Regions from separate parts of the Homo sapiens genome. Here region 2 is linked to region 1. A link means that fine-mapping ties the variant in region 1 to the expression of a gene that starts in the linked region. Tissue or cell type: breast. Region 1 holds a variant in brackets; the other region holds the start of a gene. All regions are shown on one strand. Distances are between the middles of the regions.

The links. PIP is the estimated chance that this variant, and not a neighbour inherited with it, causes the effect.
Region 2: it holds the start of TACR1, and the variant in region 1 is fine-mapped to the expression of TACR1 in breast (GTEx, PIP above 0.99). The same link has a PIP of 0.9 or more in esophagus mucosa and tibial nerve.

The regions. Positions count from the first base shown.
Region 1 is chr2:75,150,601-75,160,228 of GRCh38, forward strand. All of the region lies in intron 1 of TACR1 (tachykinin receptor 1), which reads right to left. TACR1-AS1 (TACR1 antisense RNA 1) reads left to right here and starts at 3,718. Exons shown (of 4, transcript NR_168010.1): 1 at 3,718-3,971; 2 at 5,604-5,715. The variant T/C (reference allele first, on the strand shown) is at 4,665.
Region 2 is chr2:75,193,806-75,203,433 of GRCh38, forward strand. TACR1 (tachykinin receptor 1) reads right to left here and starts at 5,715. Exons shown (of 5, transcript NM_001058.4): 1 at 4,741-5,715. The coding sequence starts at 5,129. The region is part of intron 2 of TACR1-AS1 (TACR1 antisense RNA 1); the gene reads left to right.

The DNA of each region.
Region 1 (9,628 bases):
CAATTAAACTTCTTTTTCTTCCCAGTCTTGGGTATGTTTTTTATAAGCAGTGTGAAAACAAACAAATACAATAAACTGGTACCAGTAGAGTGGGGCATTGCTGAAAAGATACCTGAAAATGTGGAAGCGACTTTGGAACTGGGTAACAGGTAGAGATTGGAATAGTTTGGGAGGGCTCAGAAGAAGACAGAAAAATGTGGGAAAGTTTGGAACTTCCTAGAGACTTGTTGAATGGTTTTGCCCAAAATGTTGATAGCAATATGGACAATAAAATCCAGGCTAAGGTGGTCTCAGATGGAGATGAGGAACTTGTTGGGAACTGGAGCAAAGGTGACTCTTGTTATGTTTTAGCAAAGAGATTGGTGGCATTTTGCCCCTGCCCTAGAGATTTGTGGAACTTTGAACTTGAAAGAGCTGATTTAGGGTATCTGGCAGAAGAAATTTCTAAGCAGCAAAGTAATCAAGAGGTGACTTGGATGCTGTTAAAGGCATTCAGTTTTATAAGGGAAGCAGAGCATAAAAGTTTGGAAAATTTGTAGTCTGACTATGCGATAGAAAAGAAAAACTCATTTTCTGGGGAGAAATTCAAGCTGGCTGCAGAAGTTTGCATAAGTAGCAGGGAGCCTAATGTTAATCCCCAAGACCATGGGGAAAATGTCTCCAGGTCATGTCAGAGACCTTCATGGCAGCCCCTCCGATCACAGGCCCAGAGGCCCAGAAGGAAAAAGTGTTTTTGTGGATCTGGCCCAGGGTCCCTGTGCTGTGTGTAGCCTAGGGACTTGGTGCCCTGTGTCCCAGCCACTCCAGCTGTGGCTGAAAGGGGCCAATGTACAGCTTGGGCTGTGACTTCAGAGGATGCAAGCCCCAAGCCTTGGCAGCTTCCACATGGTGTTGAGCCTGCAGGTGCACAGAAGTCAAGAATTGAGATTTGGGAACCTTTGCCTAGATTTAGGAAGACGTATGGAAGTACCTGGATGCCCAGTCAAAAGTTTGCTGCAGGGGTGGGGCCCTCATGGAGAAACTCTGCTAGGGCAGTGTGGAAGGGAAATGTGGGGTTGGAGCCCCCACACAGAGTTCCTACTGGGACACTGCCTAGTGGAGCTGTGAGAAGAGGGCCACCATCCTCCAGACCCCAGAATAGCAGATGCACCAACAGCTTGCACCATGTACCTGGAAAAGGCTGTAGACACTCAACACCAGCCTGTGAAAGTAGCTGGGAGGGAGGCTGTACCCTGCAAAGCCACAGGCATGGAGCTGCCCAAGACCATGGGAACCTACCTCTTGCATCACTGTGACCTCGATGTGAGACCTGGAGTCAAAGGAGATCATTCTGGAACTTTAAAATTTGACTGCCCATTGGATTTCAGACTTGCATGAGCCCTGTATTGTTTTGGCCAATTTCTCCCGTTTGGAATGGCTGTATTTACCCAATATCTGTACCCCCATTGTGTCTAGGCAGTAACTAGCTTGCTTTTGATTTTACAGGATCATAGGTGGAAGGGACTTGTCTTGCCTCAGATGAGACTTCGGACTGTGGGTTAATGGGTTAATGATGAAATGAGTTAAGACTTTGGGGGACTGTTGGAAATGCATGATTGGTTTTGAAATGTGAGAACATGAGATCTGTAGGGCCCAGGGGCTGAATGATATGGTTTGGCTGTTTCCCTACCCAAACCTCAATTTGATTTGTATCTCCCATAATTCCCACGTGTTGTGGGAGGAACCCAGGGGGAGGTAATTGAATCATGGGGGCCAGTGTTTCCCATGCTGTTCTCATGATAGTGAATAAGTCTCATGAGATCTGATGGTTTTATCAGGGGTTTCTGCTTTTGCTTCTTCCTCATTTTCTTTTGCCGCTGCCAAGTAAGAAGTGTCTTTCACCTCCCCCCATGATCCTGAGGTCTCCTAGCCATGTGGAGCTGTAAGTCCAATTAAACTTCTTTTTCTTCCCAGTCTCAGTTATGTCTTTATCAGAAGTGTGAAAATGGACTAATACATGCTCCGAGGCTGAGAGTTAAAGTGTCAGATGTCTGATTCCTTCTAAATCTGAAAACAGGAAGCTTAACAGTTGGTACATAGTAGATGCTCAATTAATGCTTAATAAATGATTGATAAATATCACTAAACAGGTGTATAGATCACAGCTCTCTTAGTCACCCCAATGCATTCCCATTAGAGAAATTCACTGCTAAGGGGTTGTTCCTTAGGAGAATAGACTGTACACCTCACTCTACCATTTCTAGTGGGTGGATCAAAGGCTATTAATTCCAAAGAAAGATGGGGCCAAGACTTCTTTTTTGTTTGTTTGTTTGGTATTTTGTGAGACGGAGTCTCATTCTGTCACCAGGCTGGAGTGCAGTAGCGCAATCTCGGCTCACTGCAACCTCTGCCTCCTGGGTTCCAGTGATTCTCCTGTTTCAGTTTCCCGAGTAGTGGGACTACAGGCGTGCACCACCACGCCTGGCTAATTTTTGTATTTTTTAGTAGAGATGGGGTTTCACTATATTGGCCAGGCTAGTCTTGAACTCCTGACTTTGTGATCTGCCCACCTTGGCCTCCCAAATTGCTGGGATTACAGGCGTGAGCCACTGCACCAGCCTAAGACTTCTTATAAGAGTTCTTTTAGGCAAAAGCTCAGCAGAGGGCAGGGTAGGAACAATACACAATCACCTTGACTGAGTCTAACAAGATGCTATGGCAAGAAAGCACAGGAATTGTCAGAAATCTTTTCTGAAGGCATCCAAGCCTCAGTGGGATGTTATGAAAGACTGCTTCTCAGAAGATAGTCCTGACACCTAAGTGGGTGACTGAGCTAGAACCAGCTACTCACTTGCTGAGAATTATTGACCTCTCTTGTGAAATGTCAATATTGACTGACTGCACTCTGAGCTGTGCTGTTAAAGGCGTTCAGTTTTACAAGGGAAGCAGAGCATAAGGTCTGATGTCTCTTCCAGATCTGATGACCTAAGATTTGTTTATAGGATCAGGAAAAAAACCCATTAAAATACATCTCTTAATTCTTAGAGTATTATTGAAATTGTGTACAACTTGGAGAGAAGCAATGGCAAAACTTCTGAAATTCACCTGGCACATTCCCTGTTTCCTTCCATGTGGCTGCTAACCCTTTTAAGTTGTGAAGACAGAGGATCCAGGTGGACCAACCAGGGATGCAAAAGGGAGGAGGTGGTTTTAACTCCTGTGTGCAAGGATTTAATTCCTCACGTATCCTCTCTTCCTATTCAAGCTAATTCCAGGTCATCAGTGTACTCTAAGTATTCTAATCAGATTCATTAAATTTTTTTTCCTGGAATCACTGATGGTGGGCAGCACTATTGAGCTTTATTCAGGGTGTGGGACTGAGGTCTCTCCATGAGGCCATTCACTTTTGATAAGGAAACTGGCCTCACTATAGGAGTTCAGTAAAGGCCCAGCTTGCTGGCTCACTGATTAATTGAAGGGCGGGGGTGTGGGGCTTGCTGTGCACAACTAAAGTTCACTTGGATGCCCCCCTCACTGCCCAAAGCAATGCTTGGCCTACAGGAAGCTGAGCCTGCTGCTGCCTTCCTCCCGGCTCCTGGCTCCCTCGGGATCTGAACACTCAGGGTCATGCTGTTGCTGCCCAAGCAGGAAAATCCTGTTTCTGAAAATCCCAAACAACAAACAGCTCCCCTACAGAGCTCATGGGGGAGTAGTCAGAACCTCCAGACTGAGCATGTCACAAGGAAGGACTGCTTTGCTGAAGCCACTCACTCCGGGAGATTTATAATTGGAAGTTTGGCCCAGGGAGATAATCAGCCAAGAGCGCGCACGCACACACACACACACACACACACACACACACACACACACACTCTGAAGAAACCCAGTGGAGATTCAGCACTAACCCACCACACACACACACACACACACACACACACACACACACACTCTCTGAAGAAACCCAGTGGAGATTCAGCACTAACCCAGCACAGGTGAGTGAGAAATTACAACCTGTCAGCCAATGAGCCATGGTGATTCCCTCTGAAGAGGGTTTCCCAGCTATCATTCCCTTTCATCCCCACTGTAAGTTAGGCCCTCGTGCATGTTGCCTGGACTGTGGCTGGAGTCTCCTAACTGTCTTGTCTTCTCTGGGTTTTCTGGCCCCAGGTCTCTCCCTGTCTATCTACCCTGCATCCCTGCTGCTGTTGGAAGAGTCCCCTAAAAGACCTTCTCCACAGCACTGCTTAGCTCCTGGTACTCCCTTATCCCTCCTTTCGGCCCATCCTCTGCCACTGGCTTCCAAGTTCGCATTTGGCCTGCTCCCTACCTCAGTCCTGGGCAGTGAGGCAGGAAGCTGCCTTTCTCCTCCAGATGAGTCTGTGCTCTGCCTCTCTCCTTTGCGTCTCCAAATTCACACTGAGCATGAACATCTCTGACCTCACCTTTTCAAACCAAATGAAAGGGCTGCATAAGGACAACTTAGTTTATTTTGGAAGGCTGTTACACTTTGACCTCCATTTAAAAAACAAACAAAAAAATCTAAAAACCCCAAAACGTTGAGGGACTGTTCCCAAGCCCCAGCATCTTTGCCCCATCCTCAAGCCTTCCAGGACCCTCTCTCCATTCTTGGGATTGCAGCTCCTAACGTAGTTCTCCTCTTCAGCTCAAGGACAATTCTAACTGTC[T/C]TCTTGCCTGGTATGGCTTAATGAGCCTCAAGCTCACTTAGCATCATCTGGATTTAATTTCCTCTCTTGCCGTGAGCAACCTTGGCTCATCTTTCTGCCTCTCTTCTCCTCTCCTCTTTTTCCTGTCTCCCCCTCCCTTTGCTTACATGCCCTTCTTCCCCCTTTCTCTCCTCTCTCTATCTCTACCTCTCTAATGTCCACAAGTGCCTCACAACTGCCCCATTCAACCCCCACCTGAGTATCACCAGCTCTTCTGGTCCAGCTCACCTGTAAAATCTCTATTCCATCCAGAGAGGCCACCATCTCCTGTTCTAAGGGTCACATAGCTCAGATACAGACAAACAAGGTCAGGACAACCACCCTCCTGCCTTGGAAAATCACCAATTACCCTCCATTATTATATTTCTTGTGAAGCTACATTTACATTTTATCATATCCACATAACAAGAGAGAGAGTTTTAAAAAGGAGAGTGGTCAAATGTATGTCAAGAGACATAGAAACACTTAGAATAATGTAGACAGAACAGATAGCTGGAGTTATTAGAAGGTTATTGGAGACCATCAAAAAGGAATCAAGATGGTTTAGGATATATTCTATTATTCTAACTCAGGATTGGTAAATTATGGCCCATAGGCCAAAGCTGGCCTGCTGCCTATTTTTTTATATGGCTTCTGAGTGAAGAACAATTTTTACATTTTTAAATGATTGAAAAAAATAAAAAGAAGACTATTTCACAAGTAAAAATTCTATGAAATTCAAATTTCAGTGTCCATAAGTTAAGATATCCTGGAACACAGTCACACTATTTGTTTACATATTGTCTATGGCTGCTTTTGTGCTATAACACAGAGTTGAATAGTGTGACAAATATCATATTGTGCATACAAATTATTGTGGTGGGTCCTCGATATGATAACAAGTATTCTTGTAAGCGATAGAAGAGGAGAAGAGACATACAGAGGACAAGGCCATGTCACAACAAGTGGAGACTGGAATTATGCAGCCACAAGCCAAGGAACCTCTGGAACCACCAGAAGCTGGAAATGGCAGGTAAGAATTTACCCAAGAGGCCGGGCGCGGTGGCTCATGCCTGTAATCCCAGCACTTTGGGAGGCCAGGGCGGGCGGATCACAAGGTCAGGAGACCGAGACCATCCTTACCAAAAATACAAAAAAAAAAAAAAAAAAATTAGCCGGGCATGGTGGCAGGCCCCTGTGGTCCCAGCTACTCAGGAGGCTGAGGCAGGAGAATGGTGTGAACCTGGGAGGCAGAGCTTGCAGTGAGTGGAGATCATGCCACTGCCCTCCAGCCTGGGTAACAGAGCGAGACTCCGTCTCAAAAAAAAAAAAAAAAAAAGAAAGAATTCTACCCAAGAGTGTCTGGAGGCAGCACAGCCCTTCCAACACCTCGATTTTGGACTTCTGGTCTACATAACAGTGAGAAAATAATTTTCTTTTGTTTCAAGCCACCCAGTTTGTGGTAATTTGTTATAGCAGCCCTAGGAAATGAATATACTGGTCTTTCATACAAAGTTTACCAACCCCTGTTTCAATCTGTCTTTCTACATTGGATTTGGGTATGCTCATTAGTGTCTAGTTTTCTTCTAAATGAAGTAAAGAGATAGTGAAATGTAGGGATACACTGCATTTCCATTAAAATGACTAAGAGAATGAGAAAGAATGCTCAGCACTATGAAGCTGACAGCTCTTCTCCTCCCATGATGGAGATGGGAGTCGGGGCTGGGTGCTCCATCCATTTCTCCAAAGGACTCATGTCTCCCATGCATTCCAGCTGCTGACCTGGATCAATGGTTTTCAGAAACAGAGGCTAGAAGGGATTATCTCATCAGCTTGTATTCAGGTCTGTGGTAGTGGCAGGGCAGGGGTTGGGGGATTGATAAGGAGGAGGATGAAGAAGGAAAGGCACCACCGTGGAGCAAACTGGTAACTGAGACTTGGAGGAAAGCTAGACCCTTCTCCTCCAAGTCTAAACAAATTCCCTTTCCTTTCATTTTCCTTACTACCATCTGCCCACTGTAGTCCTCCTCACCCACCTATGGAAGCAAGGCTTACCCAGTGACTTTGGGTAGGTACTCAAGCTTCTCTTTCCTACTCTCCCAAAAGAGAGGACTCAGGTCCTGACAAACAAGCATCATAACGACCTACGAAGACAGGATTTGACATAGGAAAATCAGAGCTTGCATTGTTAAGAGTTAAGAAGGGGGATTGTACCCACCTTGTTCCTCCACCTGTTCACAAACAATGTGTCAAAGAAGGGGCAGGTAAGTGGCCAGGCAGCCCTGAAATAGCCTGGGGCCAGGACTGTGACAAATACTCACTGGGAACATCCCCCACCTAAGGGTTGAAGTCAGGAAGAGGAGTGCCCTGTCCTTACACTAGATGGAACTGTTCCTCTATAAAAAAGAAGAAGAAATAAAACCTGATACATGTATTAATCTTATTCAGGGAGATGTGGGTTTTAAGCAATTCAAATATTTCATTCTGTTCTTTCAGTTCTGCCTACTGGCCATTATCAGGAAGATGTGGGAAATAGACTGAAAGAAAATCTTCTGATTATTGAAAGAGAATTTACAGCAGCAAAACAATTTGCAGTGTTTCTACCTAGAGACAGGGAAGTAAGAGAATCTGAGTCCAAGTCCCCACCAAAAAGAGCTTTAGTTTAGAGCCTGTTTCTCAAGAAACTTGCATATGCACACATGAGTTTGGGAAATTCTCATTATTACCTCATAGGTTAGGTCTAAACCTTATTTTAAGACTGAGAAATGGAAACCTAGCTGTGTGAAGAATGCATCAAAGATCATAGAGATGGTTAAGGGCAAAGAGAATACAAGACTCCAACTATGACCCAACTGGGTCCTCCAACACTTTTTACTATCTTTGGATCTGATTCACTTCGGGTAAATGTCTCCTGAGATCTTCCTATGGACGAAGATCGAGCATTTATCGGAAAAGCATTACTCTAGGCAACTATGTAATCAGTAGAATTTTAATTTGACCAAGTGGACATGGAGAGATTTCCACAGCTTATTAACTTTCCCTTGCTCTCTGCCTTTTTCCCAGGCAGAAAATGCATATTATGTATTCCCAGTGTCTGGCTTAATAAGAGGGATTATTATAAAAGGCAGCAATAGGACATCTATTTTCTAAAATATCAAAAAATATGTATTTATTTTGATAAACAGCAAAAATTAAAATGGTCCTGGGGGAAGAGTGCTCTATCGCAGGCCTCAGGCAAAGTTCTAACCTTAGAATCTGTTAGTAGTTAGCAGCAGGGTTAAAAGTTGTTTTTATCAGCTCTGGGTGATTGCCATATATTTTCATCAATTAATTTTTGTTGAAATGCCTGCTGAATATGTGATGTTGCATAGGGAGACAGCTGAATGTTTGCAACATAATCTAATTTGGCAGCTGGGACCTGAAAGCTGAGTATTCCTCAAATCAATATGCCCAGCATCGCAAAGGAAGCAGAACTGAAAAGAGAGGAATGGGTGGTTGGGTGAGATGCTTGCAATGTGGTGATTTAGCTGGAGTTGGGCCTCTGTTCCGAACTCAAACGGTCCCATGTCCCAGGCCTGGCTCTGCCACCAACCAGCTGTGCAGCTTCCAGCAAGTTATCTCAACCTCGAGCATCTGCTTCTTCATCTGTAAATGGAGCTAGTAATTGTACCAACTTTGGAAGACTGTTGTGTTAAGTGCTTTAGAAGTATTATCTCATTTAATTCTTACTACAACCACTACCTGGTAAAATAATTTTTTATTGGTACCTTTTTTTTTTAATGTTTTAGAGAGATAAACAATGTAGCTAATTTTGTAGGAAAGGCCAAAGTAGCTAATTTTGTAGGGGACCTGATTTTTAGTCCAGCTTGGCTGGCAACTAATTTTAGGTCTGTAAAGGTTCAGAAAGTATATCCTGAACACAAGCCCTCCTCAGTTACGTTATTTAAAGTGTTAAATACTCAAGCCAACCGAAACACAAACCAAAGTAAAGAATTTAGATAAGAAAGACATGTGAAAAGGAGGCTACTGGTAAGTACAGAACTCAGTTAAATGTAAATAATTATGAATTAATTGTATTATCTTTTTATTTAAAAATCTAATAAATTCTGATTTTTCTCTCCCCAACTTCCTGTGATATAACTAAGAAAAAACAAAGAGAAACTAGTTTCTGTAAAACTGGAAACTCCGAGAATTCCTCAGTGATATGCCAGGAAACAGGAAGAATTTCCACTAGCCAAAGTTCTGAGGAAGTTACAGGCAGGAAAAAAGATAAGGGTTACCATCTTTTTTTAGTCAATAAAGCTATGCCCACTCTAGGTACTTTCCTTAGAAACATGGAGTCTTCCCAGCAGAGAAAGGAAAGCTAGCCCCAATTTGACTTCTAGAATAATAGAGCCATTTTGACCACACTTTCCCTAATATTAGTTACTGTTTTCTTGCACTGGCTTGAGGCTACAATTACCCATAAAATGTTGTGTGACTAGGAGTGCTTATACCTAGAGGGTCTGGGTGGCAGTTAAAAAGAGCTGAGTCTGACAGAGTCGTAGTGCATTCTGGGAGTTATATTGAATCCTGGAGAAACTATTTACCGAGCATTTACTACATGTCAATAGAGGTACCATTCGCTGGATCAGGCACATAAAGAATTGGGAAGAAGGTCTGACTCTACAGGAATCAATACCACTCATGAAAAGATAGGCAGTGGGACTGGATATCTCCCCATGGCAATATATTCACACTACATACAAGACTTTAAGACAGCAAAAGATGGGCTGGAAAGTAAGAATATCAAACAACACTTGTTCATAAGAGAAGTGAACCAGCAGAGAAAAGAGAAAAGAATTGTACCAGCAGTTATGTGGATAGCCAGGGGAACAAAATTAAAAACATACATTGGGAGTTTTGGGAGTTTACAGGAAAATCTCTCCTGAGCAGACCTTTGCACA
Region 2 (9,628 bases), 43 kb after region 1:
GAAACATTTTACTTAATACCTTATATTTTAGTTACCTCTAAATCAGTCTTATTTGCCTTCATATATAGCCCTTTGAGGGAATAAACAAGGCTGTGAGTTAGGAAACCTCACCTTACCTTGATGGCATCAACACTTGATAGACTGAATATCTTTATCTAAGTTTGATGGTGTTTCTGTCTCATGATCCTCACTCTAATTCAGCAACAATAATAGTAACAGTGTCTTGTGCTTGTGCTATGTGCTTTTATTTTGAGAATTATTCTTTATTTGCCTCCAATTCAAACTATGATTTCTTCCAGTTTTTTAAAAAAGTAACACCCTTGACCATTCAGGACACTGCAGGCTCCCAGGAGTAGGGAGAGAGTGTGGCAAGTGTAACGGAGCAGCTCCAGAGAGGAGGTGGGCATTGGACCTCTTGAAGAAAGGCCCTGAAATCTAAATGACCCATCTGAGAATTAACAAACTCCATTTTGATCCACATCAATGCTGACATTGGAAAAGACAGGGCCAGTTGTGGCCAATGAGCTTCTAGTGAATGGCCATTCACAGCATCACAGCAGTGCATGGTAATGGGTTTCCAGGGCCATCCGAATTAGTGCAAAGGATCCTGGAATTTAATTCCCCCTCCAGGTGGGGTGAGGGAAGACTGCTCTGAGATAAACAATGAGATTGCAGTTCAACCAACAAGGTAAAGTTCAAGGATAGAGTGCAGGTCTAATAGAGACCTGGAAAGCAGGATATTTAAATTGGTAGCTGAGTATGGCTGGGACAGAGTGTGTAGACACGAGTTCAGTGGACAAAGTTTTTGTGATTTATTCATGTTTTTGTTCTAGGTTCCTCTTTTACATTATCAGCTCTCTCAGAGAGCTCAATTCCTCTTTTGCCTTCAACCATTACTCTCTCTGGGCAACTATATTTTTTGGTCTCAGAGAGACCATTTTATTTGGAGTCTGAGTGAGCAACTGCTACCTTTCATTTTGCTGAAATTATGCTTGCCCCTACCAGGTAGAGAAACAGTGATACCAGGCCAGTGCTTGTCTGGACCTCGCTGTTGCTCCTGTTGCTATGTGCATGGTTTCAAATCAGGTTATCTGTTGCCCATTCCCCAGCTCCCTGCAGGGCTTGGAGATTGCCTCCCTTCCTCTACTCCCTTCTTAGGTTCTGCTCCACAGTACTTGCCAGAGCATCATAATAGAACCAGTAATTGTCACCAACTCCTGAAAATGGGGGTTAGGGGAACGGGGCTGTTGAGGGGGGAGTCATCACCTCTCTGTGTCCCCCATCTTCAAATTTCATGAAACATCATACATACCTTTTAGTTTTATAGTTGTAAAGAATTTTTAAATTCTAAGTCAGAGAAATTATAGAGTTTCAATAGCTAAAATCCCTGGTATTTGTTGGAGTTTAGATAGAGGTAAACCTGATCTTATTTAGCTACATTTGTCTCTGAAACATTTTTAAATTCTAGGTAACTGCTGCCTTCAAAAAATAAAACTCTTTCTAATGGAGATATTTCTTCCCTCCCCTCCTCTCCTATCCCCTTCCCACCTCCCACTTTTCTTCCCTCTTCCCTCCTTCTCCTACCTTCCCTTCCTTTCCCCCCATCCCTTTTTTTCCTTCCCTGACCCCACCCCACCTTTCCTGTAGAAAGACTACAGGAAACATTTAAATTAGTACTGCAATCTGCAACTGAAGTTTTTCTCCGCATATATCTTGATTCTAATAGGAAATTTGACAAAGTTTACCAAGATAGTTTGACTCAACAATTCCTTTAAAAATCCTTTAAAATGAGAAGATATAGCTTTTTAAAAATTCATTTTATTTGATGTAGTAATTCTACTTATTGGGATCTATCTTAAGAAAATAATCAAGAAGGCAAAACAAAATTATCATATATAAATATTCCTTAGATTATTAATTATAATAGCAAAAATCTAGAAATCACCTAAATACACAACAGTAGAGAAATGACTACGTAAATAATAATAGCATATTCACATAATAGAATAGTATGAAGCCATTAAGATTATGTTTCTGAAAACTTTTGAATAACACAGGAAGGTGTTATTAAAGTCTTTCATTAATACCAATGGAAAAATATAGGCTACAAAATTATATAGAATCTAACCTCAATTATGTAGTATAATAGTCATAAAAGAGAAATTCAAAGGTTAGCAGGTGTTGCTTCTTGTCGGTTAGGTAAGGGGGATTGGATTTTTGTGCTCTTCATATTTCCCAAGTCTTCTGCAGTGAACAGGTTTAATTTTACAATCAGGAAAGCCACATTGCTGTTATTTTTAAAGACTTGATTCAAAGGTTGTCTGTTAAAAATTCAAGGAATATACAAACAGCTGATTTAATATTTCCTCTAAGTCTGCATTTCCATGCTGGAGAAAAGGGAGATAACTTACAGGGAGAGGACTTAAAGCCCCCTTTCTTTCCAATACATTCTTGGGAGAGAATGGATGACCACACATGCAGGAAATATATTCATTGGAAGGCCTGAGGGGGTGAGTTTATAGTGTGCTCACCAGGCTGAGCAAGAAAAAATAGAAGGAGCACTTGGCAGACATGGAGACAGAGACCTGAAGTCTCATCCCTAATTCTACCTTGAACTCTAATCTTAGGAATGCCATTGGTAACCTCCCTGGGCTGTATCTGCATGTTGGAAACATGGTGACATTCCCTGTCGCTGTCATTTCCTAAAGCTCTGGCATCCGAGACCTTTTGGTCTCACTGAGCAGGTATCACAGAGGGTCGGGGCTCTGCGGTGGTTTACCTAGAGAAAAACAACAACGGAGCTGAAATCTGGCTCCCTGCCCAATCCACTGTGCGGACTCTGACTCTCATCCCCACCCCTAACCTTCTAAGTTCCAGAGGAAAGATCAGGGCTGCAGAACATGTTTCTGTGTAAGCCAAAAGAGAGAGCTGTCTGCTGGTGCTCCATCAGCTACTGAATGCTCCAGCTCACACTGACTGACAGGTCTTCCTAGAGCTTGTGCAAAGCCCCAGTGCAGAAAAAGCAAACAAACAAACAAAACCCCCCAAAAAACTTGCCCTCTAATTTAGGGGGCATCAAGAGAGTGTTTGTAAGGCTGAACTGGCATCAGGTTTCACTACCCTGATATTCACTTATATATCATGCTATCGACTTTTTTAAGTTTAAGGAAGCTGTTATGAGATTAAAGGAGCATGTCAATGCAGAAAGATTTACAGGTGTACCTCACTTTCAGCAAACTGAATATCTGAAAACCAGTGTAGTACAAAAGATAAATTTGCAAAATAATTCATTTCACTCCCACTTTGAGTAATTGGTTTACCATCTACATTTAAAATACAAACTGATTTTCCACAATTTGTTTTACATAAAACATAGTAAGCACATAGGAGCTGCATATAGAGAGATGTACAGGGAACTAACAAATCAGTATTTGGACACCACTGCAAAGGATGGAAATGAAGATTTCCCTGATTTTAAAAGTGTTCATTGACTACAGGAGCTAAAAAAGACTTCTAATAATTTGCAAGTTATAAACAATCTTTATGCAAAGAGGGTTAGTAGTTTGGAATTTTTTTTGAAGTTTTCTCCTAGCTCCTTCTTTGGGTTTCTCACATTCAGTTATCTCAGGAAGGACATCAAAAGACTCCATTTTAAAATCACAGTGGTAGGTGTTTTAAGCATACTTTCACATCCCAGGTAAACATTTAACACCTGTGCACACATAGACATACACATTGGAGACCTAAGATACTCACAAAGGAGACAATACCAACAGAGCTGTGCTCCAATAATCAATTTTCCATCATGCTACCTGAAGAGCCATTCATTCCAGAATACCATCCCCAGTGTTTGAAATGCCAACCTTTTCACTTTCAGTCAGCTTTGGGAACCCTAACCTGTTGGTTGCCGGAACAGAAGAGCTCTCAAATGCCTTTGCCAAGCATGTTTCTCTGTGGATAGAGACAGGCTAAATACATACATTTTACATTGCAGGAGAAATTTAGAACACCTCTTGGGTAAGCTTCCTGGATCCCTATCCGTGGAGTTTCTTAAGGATAGCATAACTGTCTCTCATTCCTGAATGAGAATTCCTAGCATTACAGAGTAAACTGCATTAGAATTCTGAGTATCTTATGATACTGATGAAATGCTCTTTCACATCCAAAACAAACAAACAAACAAACACAAACCAACGAACCAACCAACCAAACAACAACAACAACTACAACAACAAACTGGAGAGTTGCAGTGGGAGCAGAAAGTCCCAGAATCCTCTAGGTGTACTTAAAACAGGAAGGCAACAAGAGGCTGTCTGACAGAAAAACAGGCCTGGAGGAATTTACAAAGCCCCTTCCAGGGTCTAGTCCTTTGACCAAACCCTAGGTATTGTTTGCAGCCTGCAAGGGTAAAGGGGAGAAGGAATATATGGAAAGGAGCAAAGCAGAAGTTGAAAGTGTCAGGAAGATGAGTGGAGAAGAGATGAAGAAAGGGGAGTTAAATGAAGAAAAGGGGGATGTGTGTTGAAAGGAAGAGAGAGAGTGATGGGTAAAAAAGAGGAAAAAAAGTTGAAATACATAAGATGAAGTTCCCCATCAACAAATGACTCAGTTGATCAGTAAAAAAACCCTCAGAGTGGCCAATCTTCCACTTGACCCATACCCCACCCAGTTCCAAACCTCACAGCAATGCCGTGGTCCTCTATGAGCACTTTCTCGCCTTTTCACAAAGGCTAATCTCACCTATCAAAGGCCACAGCCGTCATGGAGTAGATACTGGCGAAGACAGCGGCGATGGGAAAGAAGTTGTGGAACTTGCAGTAGAACAGGCCGTAGTACCATTCGTTGTGGACAGCATAGGTGAAGTTCACCACTGTATTGAATGCAGCCATGGAGGCCTCCGCGAAGGCCAGGTTCACCAGAAAATAGTTCGTCACTGTCCTCATTCTTTTGTGGGCTAAGATGATCCACATCACTACCACGTTGCCCACCACAGAGGTCACCACAATGACCGTGTAGGCAGCTGCCCAAAGGACAATTTGCCAGGCTGGTTGCACGAACTGATTGGGTTCCGAGGTGTTAGTGGAGATGTTTGGGGAGAGGTCTGAGTCCACCGGGAGGACGTTATCCATTTCGAAGCTAGGCGGTAAAGCCCTACTATCTGTACACAACCCCCCTCTGCAGCAGAGTCCTGTGGCTGGCGCCTGGGGCTCAGGGTCCTTCTAAAGCCAGACAGGAGGGTGGAAGGCTTTTTCTGGGCAGCACTCTTTTTGAAAGCTGAACTGGCGCTCAGAATATAAACGCTTCTGGATGCACTGCCCGCCTGCCCGCGGTGGCTCTGAATTCCTCCACTTTCAAGCTTCAGGAGACGTTTGAGTTCAGAAGTCTGGAGACAGCATCTCTCTTGCGGTAAACTGAAAAAGGGAAAGAAATTCCACCGGTCACAGTTCTAGGAAGCAAGAGATCCCCCGCATTTATGCACCTGCTGCTGCCTGCAACTCCTATTTCTCCTTCCTCCGCAGGGAAAGGCAAAGCCCTGTGCTGCGTGAGGACTTAGGAGCGAAGTGGGGGCCCATTGCAGCGCGACCTGTAAAAGTTCTGAGCCTATGGCCAGGATTCTGGAGCTTCGTATCCAGCTGGAGATTTTTCCTTCTCTTTTGCTGCCGCTGCCGCCGCCTGCAGTTTCGCGGGCACCTCTCGGTTCGGGTTGCTCAGCTCGCGAGTTAGCTGCGCACGAGGCTTTTATAACCCCCTGCAGAGACGTCACTGGGAAGGGGCAGTACCTGGGCTGCGTACTCGCCAGTCCCGGTGCGCAGCGCGGCAGCTGCGCCAGCTGTTGACAACTGTCTCATTCCACCGCCGCAGCTACCACGCCTTTTGCTGCTTGCTACTTGCCGTGGGAGTCTGCGAGCCGGGAGCCCCACGCACTCCGCGAGGGGGCAGTAGGTGGCTTGGAAGTAACTGACACAGATGCGGTCCGCAGCTGGAATCGTCGTTGCACGAGGGGTGCTGGGAGGAAGGAAGGATTTGGGAAACAGCTGGAGTGGAGGACAATCAACTTCCAGGGAATGAAGCCCAGAGCCCTGAGACAGCTCTGCAGAGGCGGCTTGCCTGTGGCAATGGGAAACGGTCATGTGTGGGGGCGATGTGCCAGCGCCGCGCTCCGGGCCGCGCTCCAGCTACCGAGAAGCCAGAGGCGACGACTCCCTGGTCCAGGTGTCCCGAAAACAACTTTCCTGAGGCTGTGTTTAGGAAACACCCCCACAAAATATCTAGCTCAGTTACCTGGCTAGCTGATTCACCTGGGAAGTGACAGTCTCTAAGCTTTGAGGACACTTTCCTCAGCCACCCTGGTGACTTGGCCCCTCGTTCCAGGAGAAGCTCCATTTGAGCCCTCCACCTGACCCCTCTGGATGAGCCTCTGCTCAATCACTGGGGACAGGGCTGAGCTCCCTGCGAATCTTGGTGAGCGCAGGAGCCACACTCATAGGCAGCTTGTCGCTCAGACGCGCGGCTCTGGGCTCTCCGCCAGCAATCACTGCGGCGCTGCGTTTGCCTCCCGGGGACCTGGCAGCCTCCGCCTCCGCGCCTGCCAAGCCTGCAGGCCAGAGCCGGGCTCGGGGTGGCATCGGTGGTCCTTCTCCCTGTTCCCCTTCCAGGTTTGCATAGGGGCTGGAGGACAGGTCAGCCAGCCTTCTCTGCCCGCCTCCATCCTGCCCTGCCGTCTTCTGACTTTGAGGCCTCGTATCCCAGTCCAAGACCATTTCAAACGGTAGAACTGGTGCCAGACACTTGGAGGAGGCAGGGCAAAGACTCGCCAGTCCGTATAAACCCTTTTGGAGAAGCCAAGATGGGATGAGCTCCGCAGCACGTTCCCGCCAGACTGCTGCAGGCAGAGTTCCGCGGAAAACTGAACCCCGGGAGTCCTCAGGGGCCCATCTACCCCGGTGCACCGCCCCCTCCTTTCACTGCGGGGACTCGGAGCTGTGGGACTGGAGCGCGCACCGGCAGACTTGCGCGCAGGTTGGAGTTGGCGCACACCCGCGCCAGCCGGGGAGCGGCGTTTACGCACTGGTACCGCGAGCGCTCAAAGCATCTCTCGGGAAGTGCTTTAAGGCTGGGAAATTTACTATACACTTATGCCGGGCAAAAATTGGATCCCACGCCGGGGAGGAGAATCTGCTGTTTCACTCTGTATTTTTTCGGAGCCTGGGATTTTAGCGTATATAGGAACCGCACATTGCTTTGCCAGGTTCTCCTAGGCACCCGTAAACACACTGCATAGAAAACTCTAGAGATGCTTTCAAGAGAACAGCGTCCCTTTATTTAGAGCGGCTGCACAAGAGGTCTTCTTTGTGGAAGGGAATGCCTCCTCCACCTTGGATCTCTGCTTGAGGCTTCCACCATCTCAAAGAGCTGACAGAGAGAGGGAGGAAAAGGGAGAGGGAAGGGGATGCGGAGGGTGGGGGAGGGGGGAGGGGAAACTTCTCTATCTTTAATTTTCCTTCCAAGCTGTTTAAAGTTATCTTTTCTTTTTTCTCCCTGTCCATTAGAGCCAGGCTGACGTTTTCAAAAGGAACTTTATTCAGTGGTTAAGGGAGAAAAAGAAAGCTAATCGAATAAAATCTAAATATGTAATAAGAGCTAAATATAAAATAAATATGAAATAGCTAAAAAGTAAACATTAATCCATTTATCCTCCATTAGTACAGCAAGTTGATATTTTGAAGCAGGTACTGTGCTGGGCACTGGGGCTGGGGGGTGAACAAGCACTTACAGTATGGAGGAAGACAAACAAGAAGCAATGAACCATACAAAATGGGCGGTATTATGATGACCAAAGGTACTAAGCCCTGAGTGAGGAGAGAAGAGGGAGGCCACCTAACCTAAACAATGAGGGGTATCCGTACAGATGGAAGAAAATCTCATCCATGAAGAAGCCTGAAGAATGAGTTAGGATGGGAAGAGGTTGAGGGTGGAAAAAAGGCGAATATTTCAGGCTGAAGTTTTATAAATCAAACCTTGTCACTCTGCTTAAAGTCCCATAATGACTGCCCACCTATGAGCCTGCAGGTCAGAGCGGGGCCCTGGGTGGCATCAGGGGTTCTTCTCCCTGCTCACCTTCCAGGTTTGCATAGGGACTGGAGCGCAGGTCAGCCCGCCTTCTCTCCCTGCCTCCATCCTGCCTAGCCCTCGGCTAACTTTGAGGCTTTGTATGCCAGTCCAAAGCCACCTCAAATGGTGGAACTGGTGCCAGGCACTGGGACACCTACGTTCCTTACCCTGGCCTTCAACTCTGATGTGTTGATGAGTCTGACTTGGGGTTGTTTTTCTTTCTACTCCGGGATTTTCATGGCTGGTAGCCATATCTTAGGAATCCTTATGACTTGCTAAAGCTAGTTTCTCTTCTTAAAAAGAAAAAGCATATTCATGATGGGTTCACCATTGAGGAAAAAAAAAAGCCTCAGCTATACAGTAGCAGAAGTTGTTTTTGGTTCATACCTATGATATGAGGAGACACTTTATCTAGCATCACCCATCTATAAAGTAATGAATTTTCCCCCTACAGCTTTGCACAAATATATAGATAAAATTCTATACATGCTATTTCCCTCCAAGAGCTGATATTCTTGTTTTCTTATCCTTTTTCCCCCTTCGTTCCTCTTTTCACTGAACATCTTCCTTGACACTCAACACAGGATCACACATCTTAAAGTAAACGCTGTTAACAATGTAGTATAAATCCTTCCTTATTTGTCCAGACTCTTTGATACTATCTAGATGGAAATACAAACATACATAATATTCACACATGTAAATGCAAATATAGGACTTTCATTGTTGTCTGTATTTTGTTTTTCCCACTCTAAACTTTGCCCAGCTGTTTCAGAGTCAACAGGTATAGATTTAACTCATTTTTCAGTGGTTAAATATTATTTCTATGTTATGGATACACCGTAATTTATACATTCAATTCTCTATTCATGAAAATTAACTTTGTTTCCAGTTTTTGTCACTAAAGGCAATTAACAATAAACATTCTCTACATCCTGGTGTTTTCTTTCTATGGGGGTAGATTCAAAGTGGAATTGCTGGGAAGTAGATTATATTTATATTCCTATGCATATGCATATATATGTTGTGAGTTTCTATTCATATTTGTTTATTTTTAAAAGTTTTAAATAAAGTTTTGTTTCTTTGAATTATTTCCTATATTTTATACAAATAACTAAGAGTCTATACCAACTTCATGTATTACTTTTTAAAGCGAAAACATGAATTATTTGCAATTTGCCCATATATTTGCACATACACAGACACCAGCATGGTTTTTAAAAAACTTTTATTTTGGGTTCAGGAGTAACGTGCAGGTTTGTTATATAGATAAATTTTGTGTCACAGGGGTTTGGTGGACAGATTATTTTGTCACCCAGGTAATAAACTTAGTATCTGATAGGTAGTTTTTTGATCCTCACCCTCCTCCCACCCTCCAGCCACAAGTAGGGCCCAGTGTCTGTTGTCCTTTCTATGTGTCCATACGTACTCAGCGTTTAGCTCTCACTTATAAGTGAGAATATGCAGTATTTTGTTTTCTGTTCCTGCTTCAGTTTGCTTAGAATAATGGCCTCCA